4 separate regions of the Homo sapiens genome follow, and regions 1, 3 and 4 are each linked to region 2. Evidence: fine-mapped expression QTL. A gene starts in region 2. Each other region holds a variant in brackets. All regions are shown on one strand. Distances are from middle to middle.

What was found. PIP is the estimated chance that this variant, and not a neighbour inherited with it, causes the effect.
Region 1: its variant is fine-mapped to the expression of ZDHHC3 in whole blood (TOPMed, PIP 0.94).
Region 3: its variant is fine-mapped to the expression of ZDHHC3 in activated CD8 T cells (Schmiedel 2018, PIP 0.95).
Region 4: its variant is fine-mapped to the expression of ZDHHC3 in whole blood (TOPMed, PIP above 0.99).

Annotation. Positions count from the first base shown.
Region 1 is chr3:44,911,256-44,919,374 of GRCh38, forward strand. It overlaps TGM4 (transglutaminase 4), which reads left to right. Exons shown (of 14, transcript NM_003241.4): 13 at 15-151; 14 at 2,329-3,735. The coding sequence ends at 2,470. It overlaps ZDHHC3 (zDHHC palmitoyltransferase 3), which reads right to left. Exons shown (of 7, transcript NM_001135179.2): 7 at 4,006-8,119. Among named protein-coding and RNA genes, the nearest start is that of TGM4, 41 kb to the left of the region's middle. The variant C/T (reference allele first, on the strand shown) is at 4,113.
Region 2 is chr3:44,972,538-44,980,676 of GRCh38, forward strand. ZDHHC3 (zDHHC palmitoyltransferase 3) reads right to left here and starts at 3,637. Exons shown (of 7, transcript NM_001135179.2): 1 at 3,396-3,637. It overlaps EXOSC7 (exosome component 7), which reads left to right and starts at 3,707. Exons shown (of 8, transcript NM_015004.4): 1 at 3,707-3,797. The coding sequence starts at 3,741. RefSeq lists an enhancer at 2,617-3,161 and silencers at 3,384-3,483, 3,604-3,673.
Region 3 is chr3:45,165,862-45,174,000 of GRCh38, forward strand. No RefSeq gene overlaps it. Among named protein-coding and RNA genes, the nearest start is that of CDCP1, 24 kb to the left of the region's middle. RefSeq lists enhancers at 352-1,315, 1,316-2,279 and a silencer at 1,840-1,959. The variant T/C (reference allele first, on the strand shown) is at 3,679.
Region 4 is chr3:44,875,876-44,883,875 of GRCh38, forward strand. The region is part of intron 1 of TGM4 (transglutaminase 4); the gene reads left to right. Among named protein-coding and RNA genes, the nearest start is that of TGM4, 5.3 kb to the left of the region's middle. The variant T/A (reference allele first, on the strand shown) is at 3,434.

The sequences.
Region 1 (8,119 bases), 61 kb before region 2:
CCACCCTACTACAGTTGCCTAACACAGGCAGAATTGGCCAGCTACTTGTCTGCAATTGTATCTTCAAGAATACCCTGGCCATCCCTTTGACTGACGTCAAGTTCTCTTTGGAAAGCCTGGGCATCTCCTCACTACAGACCTCTGACCATGGGTGAGTCTGCCTGAGGTATTCTTAGAAATATGCTTCTGGACATATATCTTGCACATGTGTGCATATTCCTGAGAAGTGAATTCCCAGTATGGGGTCACAGGGTCAAAATGTAGATACATTTTGCTAGTGCCAAATTACTTTGAGAAAAGATTGCATCAATTTATGCTCTACCGACAGATCTTTTTGATTCTTGCCAATCTAGTGGTTAAGTAATCTCATTGCTTTACTTTGCATCTGATTATTTGTGAGGTTGAATATTTCTTACATTAATTGACTCTCTCCTGTGAATTGCCTGTTCCTAACTTTTGTCCATTTTTCTACTGAGTCATTTATTTTTTCATATTGGTATGGTGTCTTTACACAGTAGAGTGTTATGTGCTGTGAATTTTTTTATAGCAGTTTTGTATTCAATTTTTTAAATTTGATTCTTATTTATTTTGAGGTGGAGTCTCACTTTGTTGCCCAGGCTGGAGTGCAGTGACACGATCTTGGCTCACTGCAATCTCCATCCGTCCCCAGGTTCAAGTGATTCTCCTGCCTTGGCCTCCTGAGTAGCTGGGATTACAGGCATATGCCACCACACCCGGCTAATTTTTGTATTTTTAGTAGAAACGGGGTTTCCCCATATTGGCCAGCCTGGTCTTGAACTCCTGACCTCAGGTGATCTGCCCGCCTTGGCCTCCCAAAGTGCTGGGATTACAGGCATGGGCCATCATGCCCGGCCGAACAGTTTGTATTTTTTTAAACACTAAGATGTCTTTCACCAGTAGAACTTTTAAATTTTAATGTAGTCAAATTTTTCAATCTTTTCCTTTACGGATACTGAATTTCATGTCATCCTAGGTGCATAGAAATATTCTCTTATGCTTTTTCTAGAATTTCCAGCTTTATTTACACAATTAGGTATTTATCTGGAATTTTTTTTGGGTGTGGAGTGATGTGGAGCTCCAACTTTGTCTGTGGTTTTCCTAGTACTTTGTAGCACTGCCTTTATTATGCTGTCAATTCCCATATATATCTGGGTCTCTGGACTCTTTAATTTGCTATTTCATTTGTCTTCTTCTAATATAACATCATACCACTTAAATTATTGTAGTCCTATAATAATTTTATATGATTATCATATCTACATATTGATATGTATTAGGCAAATCCCCACCCCACCCCCATTTTTGTCTATAGCACTTTTAGAATCATCTTGTCATATAATTTTAAAACAGCTGGGATTTAGATTGATACTGCATTGAATTTACCTATTTATTTGGGGGAGAATTATGCCAAATGACAATATTGTGTCTTGCCATCTAGGAATATGAGATTTTCCCATTTTTTTCCAGTCTTTTTTATCACCTTTAGAAAAGCTATATTGTTTTCTTTATATACCACTTGCACGTTATTAGTTGGGTTAATTCCAAGATGCATCAATATTATAGCTTTTATGAATGGAATATTTTTCATTGTATTTTCTAATTGTTTGCTGGACTATATGGAAATTGATTTTTGGCATGCTGATATATCCAGCAAAAAACTTTACTGAACTCTAATGTTTTGTTTCTGAGAGGTTTCTGATGGTCTGTTTCTTACAGGATGTCTGAATCTTCCAAGTAAAAATGAGTAGACTCCTATTTTCCTTAGACCACGATTTATCACATTTTAATGTGCACACAAATTACCTGGGGAGTATTGTTACAGTGTAGATTCTGATTCAGCAGGTTTAGGGTGGAGCCTCAGATTCTGTGTTTCCTACAAGCTCAGCTAGTATTGCGAAGCCCCAGAACACACTTTGAGTAGTGAGGGGCTAGCCAATTCCTTGCATGTGGATTCAACATAAAATACATGTTCCTCTTAGATTTTATGTAATAGATGACTGTTGCTAATACTCATGAAACAAGAACATCTGTAGTAAAGTCAGGCAAGACTCCAGGGAAGATTTGTGAAATGTCAGAGTTGGAAGAGCTTCTGGAAACCAGCTGGTTCACCCGTCTTGCTTTACATCTGAGAAAACTGATAGCAGCACCCAGGGTGCAGGTACACTGTGCCATGCCCTGGAATGGCCAGGACTTTTCAAAGAGGCTGAGCTAAGGCTCAGTTTCCTGGCTTCTCACCCAACTCATCTTCTCCCTCTTCCCATAACATCCTTGGCTGATTGTATGTCCGTATGTCTTTGAATTTTCCAGGACGGTGCAGCCTGGTGAGACCATCCAATCCCAAATAAAATGCACCCCAATAAAAACTGGACCCAAGAAATTTATCGTCAAGTTAAGTTCCAAACAAGTGAAAGAGATTAATGCTCAGAAGATTGTTCTCATCACCAAGTAGCCTTGTCTGATGCTGTGGAGCCTTAGTTGAGATTTCAGCATTTCCTACCTTGTGCTTAGCTTTCAGATTATGGATGATTAAATTTGATGACTTATATGAGGGCAGATTCAAGAGCCAGCAGGTCAAAAAGGCCAACACAACCATAAGCAGCCAGACCCACAAGGCCAGGTCCTGTGCTATCACAGGGTCACCTCTTTTACAGTTAGAAACACCAGCCGAGGCCACAGAATCCCATCCCTTTCCTGAGTCATGGCCTCAAAAATCAGGGCCACCATTGTCTCAATTCAAATCCATAGATTTCGAAGCCACAGAGTCTCTCCCTGGAGCAGCAGACTATGGGCAGCCCAGTGCTGCCACCTGCTGACGACCCTTGAGAAGCTGCCATATCTTCAGGCCATGGGTTCACCAGCCCTGAAGGCACCTGTCAACTGGAGTGCTCTCTCAGCACTGGGATGGGCCTGATAGAAGTGCATTCTCCTCCTATTGCCTCCATTCTCCTCTCTCTATCCCTGAAATCCAGGAAGTCCCTCTCCTGGTGCTCCAAGCAGTTTGAAGCCCAATCTGCAAGGACATTTCTCAAGGGCCATGTGGTTTTGCAGACAACCCTGTCCTCAGGCCTGAACTCACCATAGAGACCCATGTCAGCAAACGGTGACCAGCAAATCCTCTTCCCTTATTCTAAAGCTGCCCCTTGGGAGACTCCAGGGAGAAGGCATTGCTTCCTCCCTGGTGTGAACTCTTTCTTTGGTATTCCATCCACTATCCTGGCAACTCAAGGCTGCTTCTGTTAACTGAAGCCTGCTCCTTCTTGTTCTGCCCTCCAGAGATTTGCTCAAATGATCAATAAGCTTTAAATTAAACTCTACTTCAAGAAAACTCTGTGGTCCCTGAGTCCTTTTTTCTTTATGCCAATAAGCTTCTTAAATGTGCTGGCGGTTTATGCAGTCACTTGGGGAGCCATGGAATCCTTTGATCTCCCCAGGCAAGGTGCTCTGAGGAGTTGGCTTCTTTATTGTCTGTTCAGTACATCCAACCCCTCTCTCAAAGGCTGTCACCCCAACTGGATACACACCCTGGCAAAGGCACGTAGCTTGAATGAGGGTTATTTTGTGTCTAATTCACAGGAGAGTCATGGGTGGGATACCTGTCATCCTCTGCCTTTCCAGCTGTCCAAGTGAAAAAAACCTCAATCCTGGTCACCCTTGCCCAAGTTGCCCACATCCCTGGCATACAGTAGGTGTTCAATAAATGTTTATTGAAGGAAAGGTGACTGTTCCTTCTGCTGGAAATACCACAAGGGTGGTGACACAAACAAGAGTTTGGTCAGTCACTCCACAGCACAGTGTCCGATCCCAAGAGGTGATATAGCCCGGCACGGCCACTGTGTGGTGCCGTATGACACTCACTTGTCTCCCACACTGGGAATGGAAGAAAAGTAGCTTTCCTAGAGGTGCCTTTAGGGTGGCCCATAAGGAAGGACACTGCCCAAGGGTTTGAGCTGGGATCTCTTAATTAAAACAGGAGACTCCAGTCACTGAGGGTGAGCAAAGAGCTTTTTATTCAAAGAAAGAGGCAAATTGCACCCAATCTCTCTCCCTGTAAGATCTCATCTGGTTTTGACATCAGTTGCAATGCTTTCAGT[C/T]TGAGGCTAAGCAGAATGTTATGCTGTGAATGGTCACCACAGAGAGACCACTGTGTTGCTGGTGTGGGGAGGCGAGGCTCAGGGTTGGACAGGTTAATTACCTACATAACCCTGGCTGTGGCCCAGCCCAGCACCTCCCAGAACAGGGACTGACATGGCTGAGGTCTACCTTGGAGATGGGGTCAGTGAAGAGGGGAGGCAGGGTCAGCCTCTGTGCAAGTAAAATGCCCCCTCACCCCAGCCTTCCTTTCCAGAGCAACCAATCTGAAAACAGAATTGCCTTTGGGGCTGGTGTTGTACCTCTGCTTTCAGGCCAAGATGGATTCCCTAGAAGAGGAGTTTGAAGCCCAATGTGCAAGGACATTTCTCAAGGGCCATGTGGTTTTGCAGACACTGCTGTCCTCAGGCCTGAACTCACCATGGAAACCCATGTCAGCAAACAGTGACCAGCAAATCCTCTTCCCTTATTCTAACTGCTGCCCCCTAGGAGACTCCAGGGGGCAGGCATTGCTTCCTCCCTAGTGTGAACTCTCTGGTATTCCATCCACCATCCTGGCAGCCCAGAGCTGCTTCTGGGTTAGGACAACAAATAGGGGGCCCTACAGTCAGAGCAGCTCTTACCCAAAGTGGTGAGCGTCAACTTCCTGTCCAGATTGCAAGTTAATGGCCTTTACAGCTGACTCGGGCTCCTATGTCGTCATTAATAAATATTAAAGCTGATAAGGACCAAGAAAGTGGGCCTGCAGCCTGAGTGTGGGAGGCCCAATGTCTTTCTGGTTGCTCTGTTGATGTTAGAATCCCACCATCACCCCTCTCGTGGGTCATAGTTGGAGAGCTCTGGCAAGGGTTAGGGCAGAGGTGGCTTTGTGAACACTGGGCCCTTTGAGCAATTAACCCCAGGCCCTAGTGGGTCATCAGTTGTAGAGAGACGGTCTCTGGCAGGATCGTTGCCCTTCACAGAGTGTCCAAAGATGCTGTCCAAGAACCAGGATGCTGCTTGGCTCTTTTCTTTCTCACGGTCGCCAGTTTCCTTTCTCAGCATCCTGAGGCTGCACCTCCAAACACTGACCTTCTTCTCCTCTGAACTGCAGCCACAGGCCCCTTGGGGCCAGGACTCATGCCCTTTTGCCTGGAGCTGGAAGGGGGGCCCTAACACTGAGGTCTTGCAGGGGCATGCTCTGCTGAGTGCCTGTGCTCCTGCCAATCCTGACGCCAGTAGACGCTGGGGAAATGGGCCAAAGAGAGGAACAAAGGCACGTGGAGGGAGTGGGTGGTGAATCCACTTCTTATACCAAACGGGGATAAGAACCCTTCTGTTGGGCTTTGTGCAGAAGATGCTGCTTCAGCAACCACTGGAATGGGGTTTAGGAGCACCAGAACGCTGCTCAGACCTTCAGCAGTGGTCACAGACACCACAGGCTTCAAATGGGGTGAATAGAGGGCAGACTCATCCTGGTGGGGTGTGTGTGTGTGTGTGTGTGTTTGTCTATCTTCCTGATTCATCTGATTCATCAATCAGCAGACCCTGGCCATCACCCATCTTTTCAGAGACAAGATGGGCACCAATTTGGGAGAACTGGCCTTTTCAAACACACAGGCAGGGTTTATGGTCAGTTCTACCTACATGTGTTATTAGACTCCCTCCAAGAGGTAACATTCAATTAAGTTCTCATGCGAGTGGTTAGGGAGTCCCCAGTAGCTCCAAAGAGGTCCTTCCCATATCCACATCTGTGAATGGCTAGATATGTAGCCACAGGCAGGACAGCTCCCAGCTGTCTCGCTCAGTGAAGACTCCAGTGTCTGTGGAATGGGGGCTCATTTTCGGTGCTACTGTCTTAACTCTGGCTCTGTCCATGCTGGACATGTCCTGCACATGTGTGTGTAGAGCTTAATGCAGGGTCCTCTTTGAACCATGCCTGGCCCTTGCAGGTAGATGTGGCAGCCACCTCTACCTCCTAATTTCGGCAGGCAGCATGGGGAAGCCCTTTCCAGGGAGTAGCTGGCAGCTCTGCAGTCTTTCCAGGCTAGTCTCCCCTGATGTCAGTGTCCCAACCCAGGTCCCCAAGGCAAGCCCTGCCCGGTCCTTCTGTCACAACCTTACTTCTCAAAGCCAGGAGCCAGGGGCCCAGCCTTCCCAAGAGAAGACAGAAATCCTGGGGAAAGCCAAAGGCAAGCTCTTTTCTGCCCCTGGGATGCCCTGTTCAAAAGCTCCCTTTGCTGGGCGGAGAATGTGAAAGCCACCCAGTCTTGGAGAACGGTTCTTGATGAGCCGTCTCAGTGCAGACTCTTCTTAGATGAACTCTGAGAAAGCCCCCATCCTCCTCTGATGTCCCCAGCCTACTCCCGACCCCCAGACCTGGCCCAACATGGAGAGAAGAAGGAGGGGAAATGGCAAGGCCAAGCGAGTGGCTAAGGGAAGCACTGGGGGTGCTGGGAGCGCACCATGCCCATAAGCCCCTTTAGCCAAAACCCCAGGATGAAGGTTGACAGCACTTTTTAGTGTTTGCTTCTCTCCCCACAGCAGCATCTATTCATCTGTCACCTCCACAGAGTCCTCGTCCTTTGTCTCCTCTGATGGATCCTCCATTGTTTCGGTGTCTGACAGCGATGTCACCTGCCGCACCATGTCTTTGTCACTGGGGATCTCTGGCTGACACGGTCTGGAGAAGGGGTTGAACCAGTTCAGGGAGAAGTCCCCACCAAAGGTCTCCTTTACTGACTGCCAGCTCCCCATGTGCTCCCTGGGCTGGTTCTTTCGTTTGAGGCGCTCGATGCCCTGCAGGGAGAAGGGGATGAAGAACATCGTCAGCGTGGTGCTGGGCTGTACAGCTCACATAGACACCCCCAGCTATAGCATAGCAGTGGCGGGGGGGGGGGCGGGGTGTCCACGGCATGGGTAAGATGGGGTCTGAGTGGGCAGTCTGTTGTGGCCCAGGTCACCCCCGGGAGGTCCCTCAGAGGACTGCTGGGGTGTGGGTGGACAGCAGCGTGGAGGAACACAGCAAGCAGGGCCCGCCTGGTGGACTGACGTGTTCTCCACCCACCACCCAGCCCTCCCCTTCTTTCCTTCCACAAGTGCAATGCCAGATGATGGGCAGGGGCTAGGCTGATGAGTGGCTGAGGCATAAGGGGGACCACACATCCTCTGAGGCCACTACAAACTGGTGATCCCCTCCTAAATATTTTTGGCCACTCCCACCAGGGTAGATAGGGGCTGCAAACACAGCAGAAGGACGATGGGGTTAAGGAAGGAGTGCAGGACACAAACAGCATGCGAGGTGAAGAAGCGGGTGCTCGTACAGCAAGTGCCAACATGCATTAGGCAGCCGGAGGGCACACAGGACCACTGTGGGGAGGTAAGGCTGGGCTCAGGCCTGCTCATGCAGCAGATCCACCCTGCAGCCTCTTCCAAGCTGTCAACTCACCTGCCTCTGGGTGTCGGCTGCAACTCAGCCACCAGGCCACAGAAAGGGTGTTGGGGTGGGGAGATGCCCAGAGGAGGTAAAGACATGGCCAGGCCAGCTCTCCAGGCCCACAACACCCTGCACAGAGGCCTTTGACCCTCCACTGGGGGCACTGCTTTCTCCATCTCTTCTGGAAGCCAAGGGAATTTGCTGTGGGTTTGCTGGGCTTGGGCACTGCTCCTTCACATGACTCAAGAAAGATCTCTGTGTATCTAGCACTTTTTCTTCCCACGCCATTTCAGAGATTTAAGATTCTTGACTTTTGAATAAATTCTAAGTTAAAAAAATTGGATCTCAAAAGTATATCCTCATAAGATACTTATCAATTACAAAGGGAAAAACAGTACCTTAATAGCAGGGAAGAAACATTGCACGTACCACCTTCACCCAATGATCAAAGTTAACATCACAATAATGAAACGTATCAACACCATATGCCTCCTGATACGGTGCAACGAGGACACATTGCTTCAGCAGTGCTCCTGCCCCAAATGCCTAACCTCAATCTAATCATGAGAAAAACATCAAAAACACAATCTGAAG
Region 2 (8,139 bases):
GTTTAATTAACCAAGGATGGGTGGGACAGAGTTACTCCATCTCTGTCATGTTATTGTTGCCGGCTTGTGGCTAGCAGCAGCTCTTTACCTTTTGTATTTGATACCTGGCCTGCACAATTAGCACCTTATTATAGGCTGGCCTCTCTTCTAATTGCCACGTCTCAATTGAGCACTTTATTTTATTGTCTTGTTCATGCAGTAGTTCGAGGTCCTGGGCTCCCCCACTATAATAAATTCTAAACTACTTTTAGGCAGGTGTTGTGTTTTGAGTTTATCTCTTTATGCCCATAAGAACACCAGGGACTCACAGGCATGCAAACACACTGTCTGGAGTTTCTAGATATCTGAGTATGGCATACGGTTGGAATCTGGGTCTCCATGCATGCTACTCAACCCTAGTACCAGATCTATCAGCCATCTTTGCCATTGAGGGCTCTCTCCTTAGCTACTTGGAGTTAAGCTCTTATTCTGCTCATATATAACCTTTTACCTTGTTTAAAATATTGGGTTGCAACAGACACAGCAACATCCCATCAGCACCACATTCCATGTTCCTCTAGAAAAATGATTCAAGGGATATGAGTTTATGCTTGAACAGACTTCTTGCTTTTGGAATTAAGATTAACTATATAGTTCATAGGACAGTTACCAACGCCATAACAAAATTGGGATTTCCTTCACCAAATAATCTGGTGAATGTAATAAAACCTGGGGGGAGGCTGTGTAAGGTGATGGTTAGGAGTATGGGCAGGAGAGCTAGACTGCCTGGTCTCAAGTCCTGGTTCTGCCATTTACCAATGATGTAACCTGTGACCCTGGTTAAGGCATTTAACCTCTCTGTGCCTCATTTCCCAATCTGTAAAATAGGGATAAGAATACTTGCATCACAGGGCTGTTGCAAGGATTGAATCAGTTATTTTTTATTTTTATTTTTTTTTGAGATGGAGTTTCGCTCTTGTTGCCCAGGCTGGAGTGCAATGGCGTGATCTCAGCTCACTAAAACCTCCGCCTCCTGGGTTCAAGCGATTCTCCTGCCTCAGCCTCCCGAGTAGCTGGGATTGCAGGCATGCGCCACCATGCCCGGCTGATTTTGTATTTTTAGTAAAGATGGGGTTTCTCCATGTTGGTCAGGCTGGTCTCAAACTCCCAACCTCAGGTGATCCACCGGCCTCGGCCTCCCAAAGTGCTGGGATTACAGATGTCAGCCACCGCACCTAGCCTGGTTAATCTTTATAAAGTGCTTAGAACAATGCTTGGCATACAATAAGCACTATGTAAATTAGTGTTGAAAATTAGAGTATAAGGTTTTAGAATACACAAACCTACAGAATAGTATGCCCCAATTCATTTATTCATTCAATAAATGAATCTAATAGTGATGGAAAAACAAGACGGTTTAATACTGTGCCATCCTTGACTTCTTGATTTTTTTGGTTATCATATGTTCTTTGAATTACTTCAATACACTAAAAAAGAACTCAGAATTTATGGATTTTAAAGACGTCCAATGCACTATTACAGCAAAGGTGATAAAAATGTTCTGGCAGCATTTAAGCCGAATGATTAGTGAAGACTGTCATTGTTTTAGTAGACAATTTAAAAAGGAACATTCTACTGTTTACATCTCTCTTACCTACTTAGCCTAATATATAAGACATCGTTCATAACATTATTTAGCAAATACTGCAGACCCTTGTCCAGTATGGAATTCCCGTCAATTGTGAGGGGGGGACAGTTCAAATACATGTTCTATATTTTAAGACATTGGAAAATCTTTATATAAAGATAACTCCATGGTATCTGAACTCAGGCTTTTCTTCCTGTGTCTTTCTGATCTGTCCATTTGCTGTCACCTCTTAAATCCTCAGTCTCCTCAGATATCCTAGCTTCTAAAATCCCACTTCCAGGGTCTCTCCTTTCTGAGCAATCTCTAGCACATCTAGAAAATATCATTTATAACATCAGCAATCTCATGTTATCTTATCACAACAGAGCTCCTCACATAAAACCCAGCCGTCCAACCACACACAAACACATCTAAGTGCCACAACAGGTGGGGCACCTGTGCCTTCATTAGGGAGGAAATCCTTCCGGCTTCACCTCTTTCAGTTTCCCTGGAAGGCAAAGTCCAACCCTGCAAGCTGTCTTCCTTTTAGGTGCCCCTGTGGAGAATTACGTAGAGACATAAGAAACATCTAATGTCCAGTCTACGAAGAACTGATCATCAATTTTGGAGCTCAGCAGTTTAATGCTTAAGAATGTGAGCAAGCACTTCCTCTCTATAACCTTATCAGACGACCTCCCAATCCCACTGTGCCCACTGATGCGACCATCATAGCTCTAACCACCATGATCTGTGGTTATGTTGGCCCTGGAGCCTTCATCTGCCCAGGGAACTTCTCTGGGCATAGTATGTTTTACTTGTCTTGTGTTCTAAAGGTAGCACAAAGCCTATCTATAGTAGGCTCCCAATAGTTATCTGAAACTGTATTTGAACCCACTATCTGATAAATACCATTTTTTTTTTTTTTTGGCTGAGGGTCCTCAAAAATGGAACATCAGGAAAGTCATCAGAATTGCTTTAACCTGCCCTCCTTGCTTCAACTAATTTGGGTTAACTTTCTCCCATTTATCCACACGGCTCCTTTAAAACTTGCACCATACTTTGTCAGCCCCGCCTTAATGAGTTCCTTTGGTGACCCCAGCTTCACCTTGCAGATATCCTCTCCGGGTATCCAATGCCCATACTCCCACTCGGCCATCGCAAGGGGTTGGGGTTGGCTTTTTTTCGGGCAACTGCTCACAGCTCCCAGTAATCACTTCCATCAAGCCGGGGTTTCCAGTTCCCGCTAGGAAGCGTTGGGGACGTCCGGGCACTGCGCACCTCGCCAGTGCCGGTTACCAAGCGCCTCCTCCCCCGTCTGTGGGACAACGCTCTGGTAAGCACCCGAGGCAAGAGGTCCCAGCAAGGTAATGGGACAGCGTTCGGTCACAGAGAGTGAGCGAGCCAGCGAGAGATATTCCTGGGTGGAGGGGTGGGGACGCCTTAGGACTAGTGTCCCCCATTCCCGGACCCTTCCCACCAAGAACTACCTAGGGAGGGCTGCATCGCCTCTCCAGCCATCCTAGGGACTAGAGAAATGGAGGGGAGAAGAGCAGGGAAACAGCACCCCCGGGCCAATCACGACGTCCGCCCCTCCTTAGTCGGGGTCTCTCTCTCTCTCTCTCTCTCTCTCACACACACACACACACACACACACACACACACGCTCCTAAGTCAACTCCAGCTCTGAGCAACTACGCCGCACGCCTCTCCCACTGGGAGTCCCCCGGCCCGTGAGGCTCGCCTCACCCCAGCTTCTTCACCCCTACCCCAGTTTCCCTTCCCAACTGACCGTGAAGCCGGAGGCAGTTCCCCAGTCCCAGACCCCGGTGGGGCTCCCGCCGCCGCCGCCGCTGCCTTCCCCTGCAGTCCCCAACCCGGGACCCGGCCTCGGGCTTCGGCGATGGCTCCTCGGAACGAGGCGCCGCGGCTCTCTGGACTCGGCCAGACACCGGGCGGCGCGCAGGAGAAGCCCATCGAGCTCTCCCGGCAGTGGCGGCGGCCGCGGCTGCAGGAGCGGCCGCCGCGCAGGTTGATGACGCGCTGACGCGGGGCGGGGGGGGGTGGGACGTGGGGGCGCGGTCCAGAGGAGGGGACGCGCGCAGATGACGTGCGGCTCGTGGGGCAGCTCGGCAGCATGGCGTCCGTGACGCTGAGCGAGGCGGAGAAGGTGTACATCGTGCATGGCGTCCAGGTAGCTACAGCAGCGGCGTTGGGTCGGCCGCCGGGTTCAGCCTGGCCCTGCGGGTCGCGGCCTGCCCTGGGTTTGCCAGTGAGGAGGCAGCCGAGCTGCGGCGACTCTCCGTTTACCTTGTGATTAAACGGTTCTGCTGCCGGCGTTTGCAATTCAGAGCTGGCAACGTGGACGTTTTTAGGACTGTTAGCGCATTTGCAGTTTTGCGGGTCTATAAGATTCCGAACCCGGGCAGGAAGCTTGGGCAGTCTCGGAGGCCTTTTCTTAGTGAGAGAGCATCGGCCCCAGGGCCATCCATTCGGCGTTCGCGCACAGATCTTGTCCGAGCCTCAGTTTTCTCTTCGAGGAAATGGGAGTTTGGAGGTGGGCTTCTGGCCTGCTTTTCCTCACCTCGTGGTTAGGAGGGCGCATGCGAGGTGAACGCACTTTGAAAATACAAATTGCCGTACAAATAAAGGGGGAAGGGTTTTTAAAAAGCGGCTAGGACGCCTGTAATCCCAGCACTTTGGGAGGCCGAGGCGGGCGGATCACGAGGTCAAGAGACCGTCCTGACCAACATGGTGAAACCCCGTCTCTGCTAAAAATACAAAAAAATTTAGCTGGGCGTGGTGGCGCACGCCTGTAGTCCCAGCTACTCGGGAGACTGAGGCAGGAGAATCGCTTGAACCCGGGAGGCGGAGGTTGCAGTGAGCCGAGTCTCAAAAAAAAAGCGGCTAGGCAGCCGATAGCCTAAGTGCTGTTTCCATTTTGCCAATGAAGAACTAAGATCCCTAGGCAGCTATAACCTAATGTCCTCTGTGTTCTATATTAAATCCCTGGTTATGACCACTCCAGAACGAGGGTTGAAAAATGTTGGACCTGGTAACGAGCTACCCTGTATCCTCCTCCGGCTGTGTCTCCACTTGTTAACCTACGGTGTGGTCCTCCTATCAGAGTTCTTCATCCCATCCTTGGCAGAGTTCTGGCGACAGCTCCTACCTCTTTTCCTCATGCCTTTCCTCTGTCAGTACCAACTGCAAAGTCAGTGGTCCCGTGATGTAGCCATCGGATTGAAGCGGCCAGCTATCATTGAAGTCCCACAACGTGAGTTAAGGACATGTCCATTTAAAAATCGTGACCTGCCGTTATCTTCTGGGCCCTTTATATATGAAGAAATGCCAATATTTAGCATATTATGCCTGGATAATAAAGTCAGAACTCACAGTTGCATATTTTAGTTATAATTCAGGATTAACAACAGTGGGACATATGTGTGTATTACAGGGTAACATGTATGTTATTTGTGTGTGAGGGGGCATAAAAATGCCCAAAAGCAGTTAGATATGTCTTTCCCTGCTATATTTTTGTATACACTTTGTTCAGGTGATTTTTATCCTCAAAGTATTTTTTTAGGGACACATTACGGATAACCGTTTTCCTCTAAATTTAAAAACCTTTGGTCTTCTTTGTTACCGGAGCTTACCATGATGTAGTGACTCTGTCATGTGTCCTATTTTCTCTCAACATTTCATCCCTGAAAGTGGCACTGAGGCATGGATATATCTGTAACCTCAAGGTTAGAGCTTTCTCCCCAGCACCCTTAATTCCCACGGCAGTTCATTAGCTATCCAGCAGCAGAGTCCCACCATGGTCATTAGTTAATTTTATTTACCAACATATATCTAGCTCCTGGCATGTTATGTGGGAAACAGCAGGGATGCCAAAACATGGTTGTGAAATAAATGAAAGATAGGAGGGAGACAAACAGAGAGTAAAAGTGAATAAAATAAAAACAAAGGTAATGTAAGATCTATGCCAAGGAAGTGGTATAGTTAGTGGAGGTTGAAGTTAAAGTATACCAGGGGCCGGGCATTGTGGCTCACGCCTGTAATCCCAGCACTTTGAAAGGCTGAGATGGGAGGATTGCTTGAGCCTAGGAGTTTGAGACCAGCTTGGGCAACACAGTGAGAGCCCATCTCTAAAGAAATAATTTTTTTTTAATAAATAAAAAGAATTCCAGGGACTTGTAATGCTCTGAAGGCTTCCCTAAGGAGGTGGAATTGCTCCCCTAAATCCATGTCAAGGATTCCTCCTCTGTATCTTCAGGACTCAGTATTCATTCATTCAACACAGAACTGAGCTAGACTCAGGGGCTAGGAAGGAACCTGTCCTTATATAGCTCTCATGCTAGAAGGAAGATGCAGAAACTATAAATGTACTTGAGTGTTTATATATAAAATTGTACTGAATGCTATGAAGGAAAAAACGGACACGATCTAGACTGGGAGGTCAGAGGAGGCTTCCCTAAGGAAATAGCATTTGAACTGAGTTCTCAGCATGACTGAGAATTAAGTAGGCACCAGTGTTCCAGAAGGAAGGGGTGGTGAGTCTGTAAATCCTCAGGTGGAGGACATGTGGAGCCCAAGGGGTGGGCTGGGGGAAATGGTGGAAGATCAGCTTGCAGAGGTGGCCAGAAGCACGATCCTAGAGGTCTTAGAGGTTCAGTCATTCGCTCATCATGGATCTTGGAAGGCAATAGCCTGTTGACTTGTCTGTATGGGGGACCCTTAAGGCATAGCCAGTGTCTAGCACTTGGTAGGTTCTTAGTAGCATTGAATGGGTGATGTAAGCTTTAAAGGGGGAATGAGTTGGATGGTGTTTTTATTTTTTAAATTAAACCTCCCTCTCACCAGTACCATGGACATATTTGGGCACAGTTGTTGGTAAATGCTCAGCTCTGTGTATCACAGAGCCATGCAGAGTAATGGGCTTCAAATCAACGTCTTCATAAGGGCTTATTAATGTTGGCCCAAAATATGCCATATGTATAGAGGAGCAAAACACAATTTACACCATCCAAATAAAGGTCAGGATGCAGGTGAATGAGCCTACCATGGAATCTCAACTGATTCAGTTCTGAAATCTCCTAAACTTTTGTTGCGTTGGTTATAGAGTGCCGGCAGTGCACCTTAAGCAGTGCCTGCCTGAACTCCTGTTGCTTGTATAGTCCTAGTCATTTTGTGTTTTACTTTTCACCTTTGGTCCAGTAACGTCCATTTCAGCTTCTGATGTCACTTTCCCTTCAGCCTTTGGTTCTTTTACTATTTCAGGGAATATTTCATCTTGTTTTGGTGATAGTTAGAAGCAGTTGAAATTAACCTCACGATGTGTTGAGGATTCAGTTGCTAGTAATGGTAACCAACACATCGGCTCAAGCAAAACAGTATGGATTACAAGGCTGCAAGTGTTTCTCCAGGAATCCTAATCTCTGCTGGTTTTTTTTTTCCCCCTCTTTGCTTTGTTTTTGTCTCCCTACAGATTGGTTTTCTATTTCTTGGGCCAGTGGTAGAAAAAATGTGGTTCCTTCCCAGTTCCTCTGTAAAAGAGACCATTCCTTCTCGTTCAGTTCTGAACTCATGTTTCCAAGAGAAAGAAACTCTAGTTCTTTTAGGGGGTTGAGGGAAAGGATGGACAGAATAATTAGGCTCAAACATGGCCACTAGAGGATGTGTCACACTTGGGAGAAGTCAGTTTGTGAGAAGGGAGGGTGGATCATTTTAGTTATTGGCAGAAAATGGAACCCTCTTCAGGTAGTTCAGGAGACTTTTATGATGGGACTCTAGAGCAGTATGGGGGGGGTTTCAGGGAACCAATAAGAGATGTTGAGGAGCCCCAAGACAACTACTGGGAGTGGCTACTGCCCCTATTCCAAAGGGGCCAGGGGAGGAAACAGTATTACCACATTTCAGTGATAGCTGGAACTGTGGAGGAAGGGCTGCCCAACATAAGTCATAGTCTTCGATAGATGCAGGCACTATCAGAAATGTGGCCACTAGATTGGGGGTGAGGGGCACCCTCTGATCTGGTATCTTCCACTGGACAAACCCAACCAGAAGCCAGCAAAGGGAGTCTAGGTGATACAATTTGAGTCAACCTGGTGAACAGATCCCCTCTCCCAGGGGAGAACAGAGAATCAAAAAGGTGGATTAAATCGGTATTTTGATAAATAATTTGATTGGTTTCTGTTAGGTTCTCTTTCAGTCTTTGAAGGCTATATCCCATTCTTATTAGGTACATATTATAATTTTTATTTCATTGAATATTTACAACAGTTCTGAAGGTAAATGTTATCTCTATAGATGAGGAACTGAGCTCGGGCAGGTTGAGTCGCTTGTCAAGGTGACACAGTAATTGAGTGGTGGCACTGGGATTTAAATCCAGACCTGTCTGATTGCAAAGCCCATACTTGACTCTGAGGCCACCTTCCTGCTGCAGTGAAAGTCATTTCTTCCATTTCCTCAGTAGGGATCCAGAGATCAAGGCAGGAGAGAATCTTTGCTTCCTCTACCTCCTTTTCTTTCCC
Region 3 (8,139 bases), 190 kb after region 2:
GTGGGCAATAATATGGCTTGGAATTGTTTCCCCACCAAAATCTCATGTCAAATTGTAATTCCCAGTGTTGGAGGAGGGGCCTGGTGGGAGGTGATTGGATCACTGGGGCGGTTTCTAATGGTTTAGCACCATCCCCCTAGCGCTGCCTTGTGCTAGCGTTATCTGGGGATCTGGTTGTTTAAAAGTGTGTAGCACTTTCTTTTTTTCTCTTTCTCCTGCCAGCCATGTAAAATGTGCTTGCTTCCCCTTCACCTTCCACCATGATTGTAAGTTTCCTGAGGCCTCCCCACAAGAAGAAGCCTGTACAGCCTGCAGAACCATGAGCTAATTAAACCTCTTTTCTTTATAAATTACCCAGTCTCAGGTATGTCTTTATAGCAGTATGAGAACAGACTAATACAGGGAACTAGTGTCAAGTTGCTGGCAGAAGATTCTGAAGCGGTAGAGTTGAAGCCTCAGGAGCCTGGCTGGCCTTCAGGGTCCCTGCTTCCTCCTGTCATGTGTGTCATCCTTGGGCAGTGCTTTCTGTCCACTCCATGTTCTCCTCGTGGTTCTTACCTCCTCTCCTTGTTATCCAGGACATCTGCTTTATATGCATTTTCTCCATGTGTTCTGTCCAGTTTAATGGCTCTGTAGTAAAAAGATTAATCCTGACATAAGTAAGAGACATCTGGAAACAACTGACCCTGTTAATTCTTCTCTTCTCTCCTAGGGCCTCAGGGTTCTCAGTGGCTCTGCTCCAAGGCCTCACTGGGGAGCGGGAGAGGCCCATTTCAGTGGGTGAGCAGATGGGGGCTCCTGGGCTGAGGCCTTCCCAGAGGCTGGGCGGTGGCCAGCCATGATCATGGGCCAAGGTCACTTGTTACTGTACTGGAAGAACAGGGCTAGGACTGGAGGTCAGGCCAACCCAGGGTCTCAAGACCCATTCCAGGCAGGACCAGTCCCCAGCAAAAGGCTGCCAGGCTGCAGCAGCCCTTGATTTTCTGAGCTGCTCAGGGTAAGGACATCCTGAGAAGGAGGCTGCCTTTAGAGAATAGGACCATTAAAAGCTCATCCTAAATGAAGCACCACCAAAACTCCTCAAGATTGTCATGGTTGTTCAAAAGATGGCCAAAGTTTCTTTCTTTTTCTCACTCTGTTCCCTCTCTAGCTGCACCCCTTGTCTCCCTTCTCTCCCTCTCCTTCCTTCTCTCTCCTAATTGCATTTCTCAGTGTGCCTGCATCTGACTGCCTGTCTGCCATTGGAATGGGCACAGGTGTTGGGGGAGGATGTCTCCACCACAGGTCAGCCTGGGTACCAAGGAAGTGTTTGGGGAACTGGCTTCACTCCTTCCACCCAAGCCTATGTCACTTTTCAACCGACCAATGCAGTGAACAGAACTCTGAGTCACGCAGGAAATACAGTAATTTTCTGAGGAACAATAAGCATCCATTCTGCAGTTGCCAGTGGTGACTATATAGCCCTTCACTGCCATTGAGCTCTTTATTTTGGGGGGACCGGGGGTGGTATGTGCATATCTGGCTCTCTATTTTATTTTTATACAAACGATAGCATATACTGTTTGTCTTGCCCTCAGGTTTGGTTTCTGTTGCCGCTGTTGTTTTCTTTTCCAACATCATAAGCCTCTTCCTTATCTTTCCATGTCTGCACACAGGAAGCGGCATCACTTGTTTTTCATGTCCTGCGCATCGAGGCACACTTTCTGCTCCTCTTTGTGCCGCCAGCCGGCCCAGGCCCACAGATGGTAGGACTTGTGCCCCAGGCTGCTGTGTGAGTCAGAGTCAGGCAGGAAGCAAATGGCAACTTCACCGCGGTGACTGAGGAATGCTTAACGAAGGCGCCGCCCTTGACAACGGTGTGGGTTGGTAAAAGGAAACAGCCGGGAGCCCTGCAGCGCCGGTGCCGCCACCGTTTAGTCTGACTGTGCATTTGACTAAGTCACAAGAGGCCAGGCCTGTGACTTGTCCGAGGGAAAAACCACCAGAAAACCAGGTGTCTGGGCTCCCAATCAGTAATCTTCATTGGGTTTGCTTTGATTGTAAACGAACAAAAAAAAAGCTTAGTTATTTAAATTCCATTCATGAATCTAGGAAGGAGCTTAGAAATTAGCCTTTTCCACAATCAAGACCAATTAGTCAACTCTTCTATTGTAAGTTTTCATCATTTTTCTGTTTACCCAACTTACAAACTGCTTTTTAAGTCAGAACTTGAAGATTTATTCCTGGCAAATGTTTTTAAGAGCAAAAATTTGGAATCAGTGTAAGTGTCCCCAAATAGGATAATGGGAAAGTAAATGAGGATACATCTACTCAGTGGAAAATATCTTAAACTGTTTGAAGTTTGCAATAAAGTGGAAAATGCTTAGCTGTTATGTTCAAGAAAAATTATGAAGTCTAATTTATTTAGAGTGCCATGATAATTATGCTAATTCATATAGGCACTGAAACAAAAAAAAAAACCCTAAAACTTACATGAAGAAAAATAGACTGGAGAGGAAGACACCAACATGTTACTGATAATGATTATCATTTTATGGGTGAAATGAGATTGATTTTTATTCACTTCTCTCAACGTTTCCAAATTTTCTCCAGTGGTCATCTAATACTTCCAGAACAACAACAGCATTAACTACAAGATCACAGTTCAAAGAAACAAGTCGCTGAGATAATTTGACAAGTGGTCTATATCCAGAGCCATTAATATACCCACAACTTCTGACCCAGTCATTTCTCTTAGGAATCTGTCCTGAGGAAGTAGTTCAGCTTTCAGAAAAAGCCCTAGGCAGGGAGATGTTTACTGCAGGGAAAAACTGGAAACCACGTAGATGCCAAACACTGTAAAAATAGTTAAAGAAAACGAGGTTCAGCCACTTGACACCACTACGTATTCATTAGGAAAGAAAATGATGACAAAAAGCATGCACTGTGACACCAAAGACAAAACTCAGCATTCACAATTGAATGTGCAGTATGATAAGAGGGTTTGTTTATTTTTATTTATTTTTATTTTTTATTTTTTTGAGATGGAGCCTTGCTCTGTCACCCAAGCTGGAGTGCAGTGGCGCCATGTAGGCTCACTGCAACCTCTGCCTCCTGGGTTCAAGTAATTCTCCTGTCTCAGCCTCCCGAGTAGCTGGGATTAGAGGGGTAAGCCACCATGTCTGGTTTTTGTATTTTTAGTAGAGATGGGGTTTTGCCATGTTGGCCAGGCTGGTCTCGAACTCCTGACCTCAGGTGATCTGCCTGCCTCGGCCTCCCAAAGTGCTGGGATTACAGGTGTGAGCCACCGTGCCCGGCTATAACAGGATTTTAAAAACGCTATAGGTGTTGAAAAAAAAATCCTCAAAGAAGACGAGATGAATGGTTATTGATGGCGGGGCAGGGTGATGAGATTGTGTGTAGTTTCTTTTCTTGATTCAGCATTTTCTGTAATGGACTTGTCTTGCATTTATAACTGTAAAACGTAATGAGTAATGGAACAATTACTTGGTTCCAAAGCACAGAGTCCAACAGGGAAGGCTGGTGGAGAGCAAGCCCCTTTGTCAGCAGTGGAACAAGAGGGAAGGAGCCATCGAGGAGGGACTGATGAGATCTGACTAACTCCAGCACTAACGAAGCAGTGAGTGGGTGAAAAGAAATTGCGGGGCCTTGCAGGGGTCTAGGTGGGGAATGGAAAGA[T/C]AAGGAATGCAAAATACACAGTTCTGTGGAAATCACTCAACAGTCAACAGACCACCTCTGGTGGACGAACATCAAATTCTGTCAAATCCCTCCTACCCTAAAGGTCAGGGAGAGGAGAGCTGAGGGCAGCCTCTAGGTGACCTGAAGAGGGGACATGCCCAGTAGGACATAGGAAGCCTGAGTGCAGGGGTCAGTACTGCCAATCTTTAACAGAGGATGCAGGGATTGACCAGAGCGCCCTGAGGCCACAGTGTCCAGCTCACAGTGTCTGTGATTTGCATTGCCCTTTTCTCTTGAAATTGTCTTCCTCATCCTCCACAGTGTGGTCAAAACGGCTTCCCCTCTGAGGCCTTCCTTCATTTCCCCCACCTGGATGGCACATCGTTTATATGTGGGTCTACAGCTCGGTGCCACAGCTCAGAACTGATTTTGTTCCATCTGAAAACAGCGGAATATACACCTGTCAGCTGAGGAATGTTTAGGATGTTCCATATACCGTGCTTGGTTCCCAGTTGTCCCGGGCTGGGTTAGAGCCTGGCTCTGTGTATTTGTGCTCCAGTTACTTCATGCTGCATAATAAACATTCCAAAACCTAGGGGCTTTATTTTGCTTGCCTCTGTGGTATCAGCTAGGGCAGCCAGAAGGCTGGGGCAGGAATCTTCCGAGGCTTGCTCACTAATGGCTGGTGACTGGTGCTGGCTGCCAGCTGGGACCTTAGCTGGCACTGCTGGCTGGAACACCCACGAGTGTTCCTCCCTTTATGGCCTGGGCTTCTTCACAGCATGGTGGCTGGGCTCCAAGAGAGAGAAAGGAAGAGAGAGAGAACACATCAGACAGGAGGAAGCTGTATTTTCTCTTATGACCTAGCCTCAGAAGTCACACAATGTCACTCCCCTGTGTTTCATTGGTTAGAATCGAGTCACTAAAAGGGACTCATAGTCAAGGGAAGGGGAATGAGACTCTACCATTTCCTAGGAGGAATGTTGCAGACAGGTCTTCAACCCCCACTGTTGGCCTTTGTTGTACGCCTCTTCTTTGTACCTAACATAGAGCCCTGAACAGAATATTAGGCAAAATTGCTGGTTGGGTCAAGTTGCCTTCTGGATTGGTACAGATCTGGGTGCAGAAGATAGATTGGAATGAACCCACTTCCTTCCCATTAAGTCACTCAGAAACACAAAATGTTTGGAGAAGTCAATCATTTTCTGCCTCCAGCTGCCCACAAGCTTGTGAGTTGACTAGGTCAAGTTTACTGTCTACATTCTGTCCCCAGTTTCCCTACCCAGCCTTTCCCCCACTGCAGCATAATGTCAAACCCATCGTTTAATCAGACAGGTACCCTCACGGTCTCCCAGCAGGGGTACCCCCAGGCCTTTGCTCAGGTGGTTTCCTCTGCCTGGGACGCCCTCTCTGCTTCTCCCTACTTTCTGTTTTTTTGTTTTGTTTTGTTTTTTGTTTTTTGAGACAGAGTCTCACTATGACACCCAGGCTGGAGTGCAGTGATGTGATCTCTGCTCACTGCAACTTCTGCCTCTTGGTTTGAAGGGATTCTCACGCCTCAGCCTCCCGAGCAGCTGGGATTACAGGCATGCACCATCACGCCTGGCATATTTTTTAATTTTTTGGTAGAGATGGGGTTTTGCCCTGTTGGCCAGGCTGGTTTCAAACTCCTGGCCTCAAGTGATCCACCCGTCTTGGCCTCCCAAAGTGCTGGGATTACAGGTGTGAGCCACCGTGCCCGGCCTTCGCCTTACTTTCTCACTCCTATCCAGTCTTCACCACCCAGCTCAAAGAGCTTTCTTAGCATTTCCCTCTCATCACCGTCACTCACTCCCCAACCTTTGCCTCAGCAAAAAGAAGTGACTAACAAACCTGTATTCCCAAAGCCACAACCCTGCACCCATAAGGGAGCTCAGGGCAGCAAAGCCAAAGCCCCTGGCTCCAGGCAGCAAGGCAGAGTGGAGAGATCTGGACCACTGGAAAAACTAAAGCAAGAGGAGGTGGCTCCCTCTCGCGACAGCCAGTGCCACCAGAGGAAATTGAAGGATAGACTGATCTCTTTAGAAAAGCATAAAAATACAAAATTTCATGTGAAATTCCTTAATTTGTAAAGGTTGATAACTAATTTAAAAATTTAGGCTGCAAATGAATCCCCTGGGCCACATTTGCCCCTCTCTCCCCTTCACAACTTTTGACTGAAAAGATTTGGGGCTGAGAGAAAGGGTTTAGGGAGGGCCTTGGGGAGTGTGGGGTTTTCTCTGAGGGCTAGAAGCTAGAAAGGGTCAGTGTGTTGAGGATGGAACTTCTGGAGGGTTCTTGAAAGGCCTTGGTGCAAATGATGCTCCCAAACTTGGACTCTGCTCCAAGGGAGACATCTACCACTGCAGCAGAATGGGGCTTCAGTGGAAGCTGGGTTGAGTTATAGAAAAACAAAACCTTAGGCAGGGCGTGGTGGCTCATATCTGTAATCCCAGAACTTTGAGAGGCTGAGGTGGGTGGATCACCTGAGGTCAGAAGTTTGAGACCAGCCTGGGCAATATGGTGAAACCCCATCTCTACAAAAATACAAAAATTAGTCAGGTGTGGTGGTGGGCACCTGTAATCCCAGCTACTCGGTAGGCTGAGGCAGGAGAATCGCTTGAACCTGGGAGGCAGAGGTTACAGCGAGCCAAGACTGCACCACTGCACTCTAGACTGGGCAACAGAGTGAAACTCCATCTCTAAATAAATAAATAAAAATAAAAATAAAAAAATAAATTGGGGTCAGGACAACCAAGGGATGCCCCAGTGGACCACCCGAGTGCCAAACATATTCTTGCCTGCCCCCATTGTGTAATCAGCAACCCTGCTTTCTCCTGATGACCAGGGTCCCGTTACCCACGATGGGATGGTGGCTCTTCTCCCTGCTGGTCTCTCTGCACAAAGAGCCCAAAGTGACTGGAAAGCAGCCATAGCTAGGAGTTTGATGGAATCCTCAGAGTGTCACTGGTAGAAGTGTATCCTCTTCTGGGAACCAAGATCTCTAAACCACAGAGCTGTGGGAATGGGACATTGAAACTGGTTAAGAGATCTTGTCCTGGAAGTGATGGTAAGTGGGGCGACTCAGGCTTCCACCCCTTGATTTCCAGGTGAACCACTCCTCTCAGGGGGTAGGGGCACAGTACCATACAATGCCTGTTGACTTAGAGTGTCAGGATACATAGCGCCCTCTCCAGCTGGTGCTTTGGCTGCCTGGACCTTCAGTGACCATTCCACCTCCGGCTGGCCTCTAGAGGATGAGGACGTGGTATCACCAGGGACCTCATGGTCACTTGCCTTTGCAAAGTAGGTCTCTTTGTCTCAATGCTACATGGGATCCTGTATTGGTAGACCACATATTCTGCAGGTGCTGGCCAAGGTCTGTGGGCATAATAGGTGAATCCATGCCCACAGTATGGGTCAATTCCACCCAGAGTGAATTGCTGCTCCTTCCAAGGTGGAAGGGTTCAAATGTTGAACTAGTCACTGAAAGGCTGGCTCGGCTCCCTAAGGGTTGTTGCCATTTCGGCCTCAGTGTTGGTCTCTGGGGCTGTCAGGTTAGACACTGGATAGTGGCAGTTGCTGCATCACCTTGGAGAGTGGAAGGCTATGGTGTCCAGCCCATGCGCAATCCTCCATCCGTTCTGCCTTGATGCGTGTGAAAGAACCCAGCTAGTGGTAGCATGCACTGTTCTGCGGTAACTACTCTGTTCATGTACCCATGTGGCCAGTGATGGAGGCTGGGAAAGTCACTCTGACCATGTGGCTGTTCAGTGCCTTTCCTGTAGTGGGTGCTCTGTGGTGGACATTGCTGTGCAATACGATTTGGTGCCCATTCCTGTGGGCCCATCCTCTTGTCTTGCAGGTCACGCTGTGCCCCTTCCCGAGGGTCCATCCAGGTGCCTCTTTCCCAGCCCTCCTTAGTCTCTTTCTTCCAATTTTTCTCTTCTGGGCCCCTGAGGAACTAGCGCAGCCATTTTCTGCTGCCTGCACACCTGCGTAAATTCTAATTTAAGACCACTTCTCTTTCTATGGGGAGGGTTTTCTTTCCCTGCTGCTTTTCAGGGCTGCCCCTGGATGGAGTTGTGGTCGATTTTTGGCCCTCACCCACAAATTAGGCTGAGTTATTTGTGAACCAAATGCAGCCTTCCACCCAAGCCCCCAACTCATGGTCATTGGTGTGGCCTGAAGGAAGGAGGGGTGGTCCTGGTGCCAGAGTGTGCAGATGACATGAGGTCTGGTCCATCTGCTTGTACAGGTGACTTGTGCCCTCTGGCCCTGCTTGGACCTAATCTTGGAGGTGCCACTTCCATCTTATGATGGCTTCCTGCTGAGTCTGACCTTCTGCTTTGGTAGATGTGAAAGAACCCAGCACATGATGGCAGCCTTGGCTGTGTAAGGGAGGAAATATTTCACCTCTACTCCCTTAGAGTGTTTTGGCTG
Region 4 (8,000 bases), 97 kb before region 2:
AGACTCAGTCTTGGAGGGTACAGAGTCCTTAGGACTGAGAAAGGGTGGTGTGGTGTGATGGGAAGCACCTGCTGATTTGAGAGAAGATTCATGTCTAAATAGCCCTGTGGCTTTGGGCAGGTTACATCAATCCCGTGAAAGCACTATATAAATTACTGAGGACTACCTGAAGGAAAGGTAGTCCTGACCCACACTGTCATTTTCAAGAGGTGTGACCTGTTCACTGGGGAGGTTTGATGACTTGACTGAGGTCCCAGCCATGGGTGGCAGAGCTGGGACACAAACCCGGCGTGTGTTCATTTCATGCCACACTATGCTGCCTCCCTGCTGGGCACAATTTGACTTTACTCTCAAGGTCTAAATCACCAAAGACAGTCATCTCCTGGCCACCAGTGTTGGGGTGTTGGTGAGGGGAGCTGACGCTCCCTGAGGTGTCCTTTCTGATGGGCTTGTGCAAGTAACCATCACATGCCACCTTACAACATTAGCAAGTTGTGATGACTCCATGGTGTTTTCATGAATATGATTTCATTTGTTCTTCCAACCACTCTAGGAGGTCAGGACATCCAAATAGGGACCTGGAAGATGGTGATATGTGTGGGATAAAGGTAGGATTTCATATAAATGGAGGAAATGAGAAATTGTGCACTTTATGGTATTAGGACAACTGGTTAGTATTTAGAGAAAAACAAAGCCAGATATCTATCTCATGGCTTATCCCACAACGAATCCCAGAAAGGTCGAAGACGAAACTGTAAAGGCAATAGAAGAAAATGAAGGCAATATGAAAAATAATCTTAGAGTAGAGAAGGTGTTACAAAGGAAAATAGAAAACCTAGAAACATAAAGGAAAAGAACAGTAAAACTGACTCCAGAAAAATTAAAAATATGTGTAAGACAAAACCTCCAGAGTCAGAAGGTAATGGAACTGTGAAGGGTACTTTCAACACATATGAGAAGCAAATGCTGTTCTGTAGTATAAAAAGAGCTCTCAGATCTATAAGAAAATGACCAACATCCCAAAATATACATGGACAAAGAGCAGTATTAGGTAGTTCAAAGAAAAAGAAATATAAATTGTAATATATGAAAAGATGCTCAACCTTACTTGTAACGAGGGTGGTCATGAAATAAAACTGAAACAGCAGGCCAGGTATGGTGGTTCATGCCTATAATCCCCAAAATTTGGGAGGCTGAGGTAGGAGGATTGCTTGAGCCCAGGAGTTCGAGACCAGCCTGGAAAACATAGTGAGACCCTGTCTCCACAAAACAATTTAAAAATTAGCCGTGGCCCAGCAAGGTGGCTCATGCCTGTAATCCCAGCACTTTGGGAAGCCAAGGTGGGCAGATCACTTGAGATCAGAAGTTAGGGACAAGCCTGGCCATCATGGTGAAACCCCGTCTCTACTAAAAAATACAAAAATTAGCCGGGTGTGGTGGGGTACACCGGTAATCCCAGCTACTTGGGTGACTGAGGCATGAGAATTGCTTGAACCTGGGAGGCGGAGGCTGCAGTGAGCTGAGACTGCACTCCAGTCTGGGCAACAGAGCGAGACTTTGTCTCAAAAATAAATAAATAAATAAAAATAAAAATTAGCCAGACATGGTGGTGCATATCGGTAGTTCCAGCTACTCAGCTACTCAGGTTCAAGGCTGCAGTGAGCCATGATTGCAACACTGCACTTCAGCCTGGGTGACAGGCCAAGACTCTGTCTCTTAAAAAAAAAAAAGGTTATATAAAAGCAAAACAGCAATGAGATTTCATTTTTTCATTTATCAGATTAGCCAAGATTAAAAGTTTAATAGTAAATAGCTTTAAAAAGGCATCTTCTCATCTTTTTGTAGGAGTATCACTGGTGCAGTCGCTAGAAGGCTCTCTGGCAACATTTGCTGAAATTAAAGATGCCCATATCCTGTGACACAGCAATTCTGCTTTGGAAGATTTCTCTTACAAATATTGTCACACATGAGTGCAAAGATACATGTACAAGGAAGTACATTGTAGCATATAAGATTTTAAATGGTCTACATGTCCATCCAGGGGGATAATAGCTACTAAAAAGTAACAAGGTTGAGACCAGCCTGGGCAACATAAGGAGACCCCTTCTTCACAAAAAATGAAAAAATTAGCTGGGTGTGGTGATGCATGCCTGTAGTGCCAGCTACTCAGGAGGATGAGGTGAGAGGATTGCTTCAGCCCAGGAGGTCGAGGCTGCAGTGAGCTGTGATCACACCATTGCACTCCAGCCTGGGAAACAGAATGAGACTCTGTCTCAAAAAAAGAAAAAAAAATTAAAAGAAAATAATAACAAGATCTACTTGGGTGGTTAGGAGATAAATTTCAAGACATGTGTGTGAGAGAGAGAGGGAGAAAAAGAGAGAGAGAGAGAGAAGCAAGGCGCAGAATAGTGTATTGAGAAAGCTCCTGTTTCTGTAACTAAAGTAATGGTTTATGGCAGAGAAAACTGGAAAGATACCTAGATACTTTATAGTGATTTTCTCTGGAGAAAGGATCTGGGAGTCTGGGATGGGAGAGAAACTTAATTTTTGTAATGGGCATTTATTACTTTTGTTTTATTATTATTATTATTATTATTATTATTATTATTATTATTATTATTATTTGAGATGAGGTCTCACTCTGTCACCCAGGCTGGAGCACAGTGACGTGATCTCGGTTCACTGCAGCCTCCAGTTCCCAGGTTCAAGCGATTCTCCTACCTCAGCCTCCTGAATAGCTGGGATTACAGGCATGCGCCACATTACCCAGCTAATTTTTTATTTTTAGTAGAGATGGGGTTTCACCATGTTGGCCAGGCTGGTCATGAACTCCTGGCCTCAAGTGATCCGCCTGTCCTGGCCTCCCAAAATGCTGGGATTACAGGCGTGAGCCGCTGCGCCTGGCCTCTTCTTTATCCTATTTGTGATTCTTTGTGGTTCCTAAATAAGAGGATTCATGTCTCTCATTCATTTTGGAAAGTTTTCAACCATCACCTCTTCGCTGCTGCTCCCCATTCTTGATTCTCTCCTTTCAGAACAACTATAGTATATAGTTTAGCCCTTTTCATCCAAGACTCCGCGTCTCTAAACTGCTTTTCATATTTACTTCTATTAATATTTCTCTAGGTTGTATTATAGGTATTTGTTTCCAGTCTATTTTCTAGTTCACTGATTCTCTTTCAGTTATGTCTATTTGCTGTTTAACCTGTGAGTTTTTTTCATTTTGAGAACCATATTTTCATTTTTAGAAGTTATGTTTTAAAAAATTTATCTGGTCATTCTTAATAGTGGCTTATTCCTTTCTCATCATTCTGATTTATTCTCTTAGGTCCCTAGCCATTTTTGACTTGGCTATTTTATGGTCTCTCTCTCTCTCTCTCTCTCTCTCTCTATATATATATATATATATATAGTTTATTTAATTTAATTAATT[T/A]ATTTATTTATTTTTGAGATGGAGTTTCACTCTTATTGCCCAGGCTAGAGTGCCATGGCGTGATCTCGGCTCACTGCAACCTCTGCCTCCCCGGTTCAAGCAATTCTTCTGCCTCAGCCTCTCGAGTAGCTGGGATTACAGGCATGTGCCACCAAGCCTGGCTAATTTTTTTTTTTTTTTTTGAGACAGAGTCTCACTCTGTCGCCCAGGCTGGAGTGCAGTGGCGCAATCTCGGCTCACTGCAAGCTCTGCCTCCCAGGTTCACGCCATTCTCCCGACTCAGCCTCCCAAGTAGCTGGGACTACAGGCGCCTGCCACCACATCCGGCTAATTTTGATTTTGTATTTTTAGTAGAGACGGGGTTTCACCGTGTTGGTCAGGCTGGTCTCGAACTCCTGACCTCAGGTGATCTGCCCACTTCTGCCTCCCAAAGTGCTGGGATTACAGGCATGAGCCACTGTGCCCGGCCCTATATTTTTTAATATTTTATTTTATTTATTATTTTTTGAAATAAGGTCTCACCCTGTCACCCAGGCTGTAGTGTAGTGGTGTGAACATGGCTCACTGCAGCCTTGACCTCCCAGGCCCAAGAGATACTCTTGCCTCAGCCTCCCAAGTAGCTGAGACTGCATGTGCACATCACCATTCTCAGTTAATTAAATAATTTTTTTTTAAAGACAGGGTTTCTCTATGTTGCCCAGGCTGATCTTGAACTCCTGGGCTCAAGGGATCCCCCTGCCTCAGCCTCCCAAAGTGTTGGGATCATAGGCGTGAGCCACTGTGCCTGGTCCATAGTCTATATACGTTATTTTATAGTCTGTATATTATCTGATTTCTTGGACGAATACTTGTGTGGTTTCTGCTGAAATAGTGTATTTTGTGTTTTAAAATTTGGGGCTATAAGCTCACCTTGAGTGTGACTTTATCTGTGGGAATGCCATAAAACTTTGGTGGAGAATGAATTACTCCAAAGAAGATTGGCGTTTATCCCCTAAACCAGTGACAACTGTGACTAGGAGCCAGTTTCTGCCTATGAGCCAAGGACAACTGTTTATTTTACTTTCTCAGTATGGGGGAATCCCAGACCTCTACAGAAAGAGGTGATGTTTGAAATTTTTCATAACCGGTATGCATTCTGCAGGGGCTGTGCTCCCACAAGCACTCTGGGAAGGAGACTCTCCAGGAGTGCCTGCTGGCAGGTGGCAGTAGACTCAGGCAGCAATATGGACACTGGGGGGTGGGGGAATGTGATTTCTTGTGGCAAAAAGTACAAAGAAAAATCAGCAAAGGGAAAAGCCTGCTGGGGTGAGGTCCTGAGGGAGCTAGGCAGGTCTTCCAAGAGTCCTCTCCAGTGTCACACAGGATGTGTTTAATTCCTTTAGCAATTAGTTGTGACATGTTTTTTCTCTGTGTATCTCATTCATTCAGCAATCATAACTTTATTTTCTTTTTGTTTTTAGTAATCTCTTATTCTCACCCAGACCTTTCATCTGGAATGGTTGTTTGCAAGAGGGACAAAAGCATTTTTACAGAAAAATATTTTAATACAACCTAACCAGAATAACACATCATATTCTGGAATTGGTCAGGACAAAATCCTGAATTTTCAAAAATTTTCAAAATGGTAGTTCGGGTGTGGTGGCTCGTGTCTGTAATTCCAACATTTTTGGAGGCTGAGGCAGGAGGATCGCTTGAATTCAGGAGTTTGAGACCAGCCTGGGCAACATAGTAAGACTTCATCACCACTATGAAGTGCACTATGGTGCACACCTGTAGTCCCAGCTACTCTGGAGGCTGAAGTGGGAGGATCCCTTGAGCTCAGGAGGTTGTGGCTGCAGTGAGCCGTGTTCACACCACGGCACTCCAGCCTGGGTGACAGAGCAAGGCCCTGTATTAAAAAAAAAAAAATCAAAGTAATCTTAAATAACCTCTCACTATTTTTTGTCCTGATCATTTATTCATTGAGCAGCCTAGAAAAGGTCAGTCCCTTTCTGGGGAAAGCTGTATTTAATAATCAAACTGCCTTACCAGAAGGAAGGAGAAGGAAATTGTATTAGTTTATTTTCTGTTGCTTATAAAAGAATACCTAAAACTCAGGTAATTTATAAAGAAAAGAAATTCATTTATTACAGTTATGGAGGCTGAGACTCCAAGGTCGAGGAGCTGCATCTGGTGAGGGCCTTCTTCCTAGCGAGGACTCCCTGAGGAGTCCCAAGGTGGTGCTGGGCATCACATGGTAAGCTCAGGTCTTCCTCTTCTTATAAAGTCACCAAGATCCTCTTAAGTGCGTTTTTTCTTGTCATTTCAAGAGTCCCACTTGACCCACTCAAAAATATACATACAGACTGGAAAATCATAAGCTTCTAAGGCTGACAATTTCACAAGAGCTCATTAGCAACTAATGCTAATTTTAGTTTAAAAGCAACTTTGCTTTTTAAAACTCCAAAAGTATATCGCCATCTGGAGATTGCTTGTCTTTTATGTTGTCTCCTTTTTTCCAGAGGCTTCATAGGCAAAAGTTATAGCAAAAATTATCCATTGCAGAGACTTTTGTTTTTTAATACTCAAATAATTTAAACTCCAACCCACACATTGGTGGCAAGAAACAAGGACATTGTATTCCACTGACACTTTTTCTTTGCAGGTTTCCCTGGTCATCTTGCATTTATGACACTGCAAGCATTAAACTGGTATATCAATTTTGACCATCTATCCAAGTGCAATAGCTACAAAATAAAAATACAAACGCTTTTTTTTTTTTTTTTTTTTTAGAGTTGAGGTCTCACTTTGTTGCCCAGGCTGGCGTGTTGTGGCTATTCACAGCTGCAATCATAGCTCACTGCAGCCTCAAACTCCTGGGCTCAAGTGATTCTCCCACCTCAGTCTCCCGAGTAACCGGGATTACAGGTATGTGACTCCAAAGGCATTTTTTTAAAGACAGCCCCAGTGTGGCTTCCTGTAGTTCCAGGATTCCTCCAGCCTCCCAGATCTGCCTTAAGCAGTGCTCAGGTCACAGAGCAGTGCCCAGGAGAGGGTGAGGGAGGAGGCTCCAGTACTGGCCATCTGTTATGTGCTGTATGTTGGTTTCTTAGGGCATTCAAATGACCACAAATGAGGCTGCTTAAAACAACAGCAATTTATTATTCTCTCGTTCTGGAAGATAGACATCCAAAATCAAAATGTCCGCAGGGTCCTGCTCTTGCAGAAGCCTCCAGTGGAGAATCTTCCCTTGTCTTTCTTGGTTTCTGGTGGCTCCAGGTGTTCTGTGGCTTGCAGCTGTGTAACTCCAGTCTCTGCCTCCATCTTCACATGACCCTCCCCTTGCCTTTCCATGTCTCTTATAAGGACACTTATTCTTGGATTTAGGTCCTACCTGGATAATCCAGGATAATATAATCACAAGATCCTTAATCACACCTGAAAATCCCCTATTTCTATAAGGTCACATTCATAGGCTCCAGGTGGAGATATCTTCTGTGGGACCACCATTCAACCCACTATATGCCCATCTGCCTAACATTAATGATGGCCTGCATTTTGTCGAGTGCCTACTGTGTGCCAGGCATGTGCCAGGCACTCAATGTGCACACTAGCCACCAAGGGAGGGACTATGTTTACCATTCCAGGGAGATAAGGTCTTAAGAAGCTTCCACAGAGATGACTGCATTTAGGATTTGGATTTCTTAACTGCTCTTTCCTGCTTCCTGGTACCAAAACCTATACCTTTACCCCTTGGGAACCCAGGTCACCCACCTGCCCAGTCCATGGGGGAGCAGGAATAAGTCAGAACATGGGAGGGACTGTTAAAGCCCTTTTCCAGCTGTGATTGCTTTGCGATTGGCTCTGGGTCCCACAGCAGGAGCTCTGCTGTCCAGGGAAATGAAGAAGCCTTTCAGGATTGCAGCTCCTGACAGCATGCTATGGTTTGAATATGTCTCCCCCTAAAATTCAGGGGTTGCCAATGTGGTGATACTAAGAGGTGGGGCCTTTAAGAGTTGATTAGGTGATAAGGGCTTCTTCCCTGTGAATGAGATGAGGTGCCCCTCTAAAGGGACCTGAAGGAGGGAGTTGGTCCTCTCTCGCCCTCTGCCTTCTGCTATGTTACAATGCAGCAAGAGGCCCTCACCAGATGCTAGTGCCTTGATCTTGGACTTCCCAGCCTCCAGAACTGTGAGAAATAAATTTCTATTCTTTCTAAATGACCCAGTCTCAGGTATTCCATAACAGTGGCACAAATGGGCTAAGATGCTCCAGCTAGCCATCGGCCCACCCCAAGGTTTCAGCCCAAGAAGGGGAAGCACCTGGGAAGGTAGGTCTGTCTGCCAGGTGGGCCTCCCTGCTGGAGGCAGCAGGTTCCCAGGCCCTGTGCGCAGTGTGAAGGGAAGGCCACTTGCTGGGACTTGCCTTCCTGGAGAACACTTGTCCAGACCCCAATCCCAAAGCCACTCCAGCAAGAATGAGCTGTGCTGTCTCCAAACACATCACTGGCCGCATCCCCAAGGTAGGCATCTGATGTGGGCGTGACCACTCCACCTATTTTGTAGTCATGAAAGCCCAGTTTCCATGG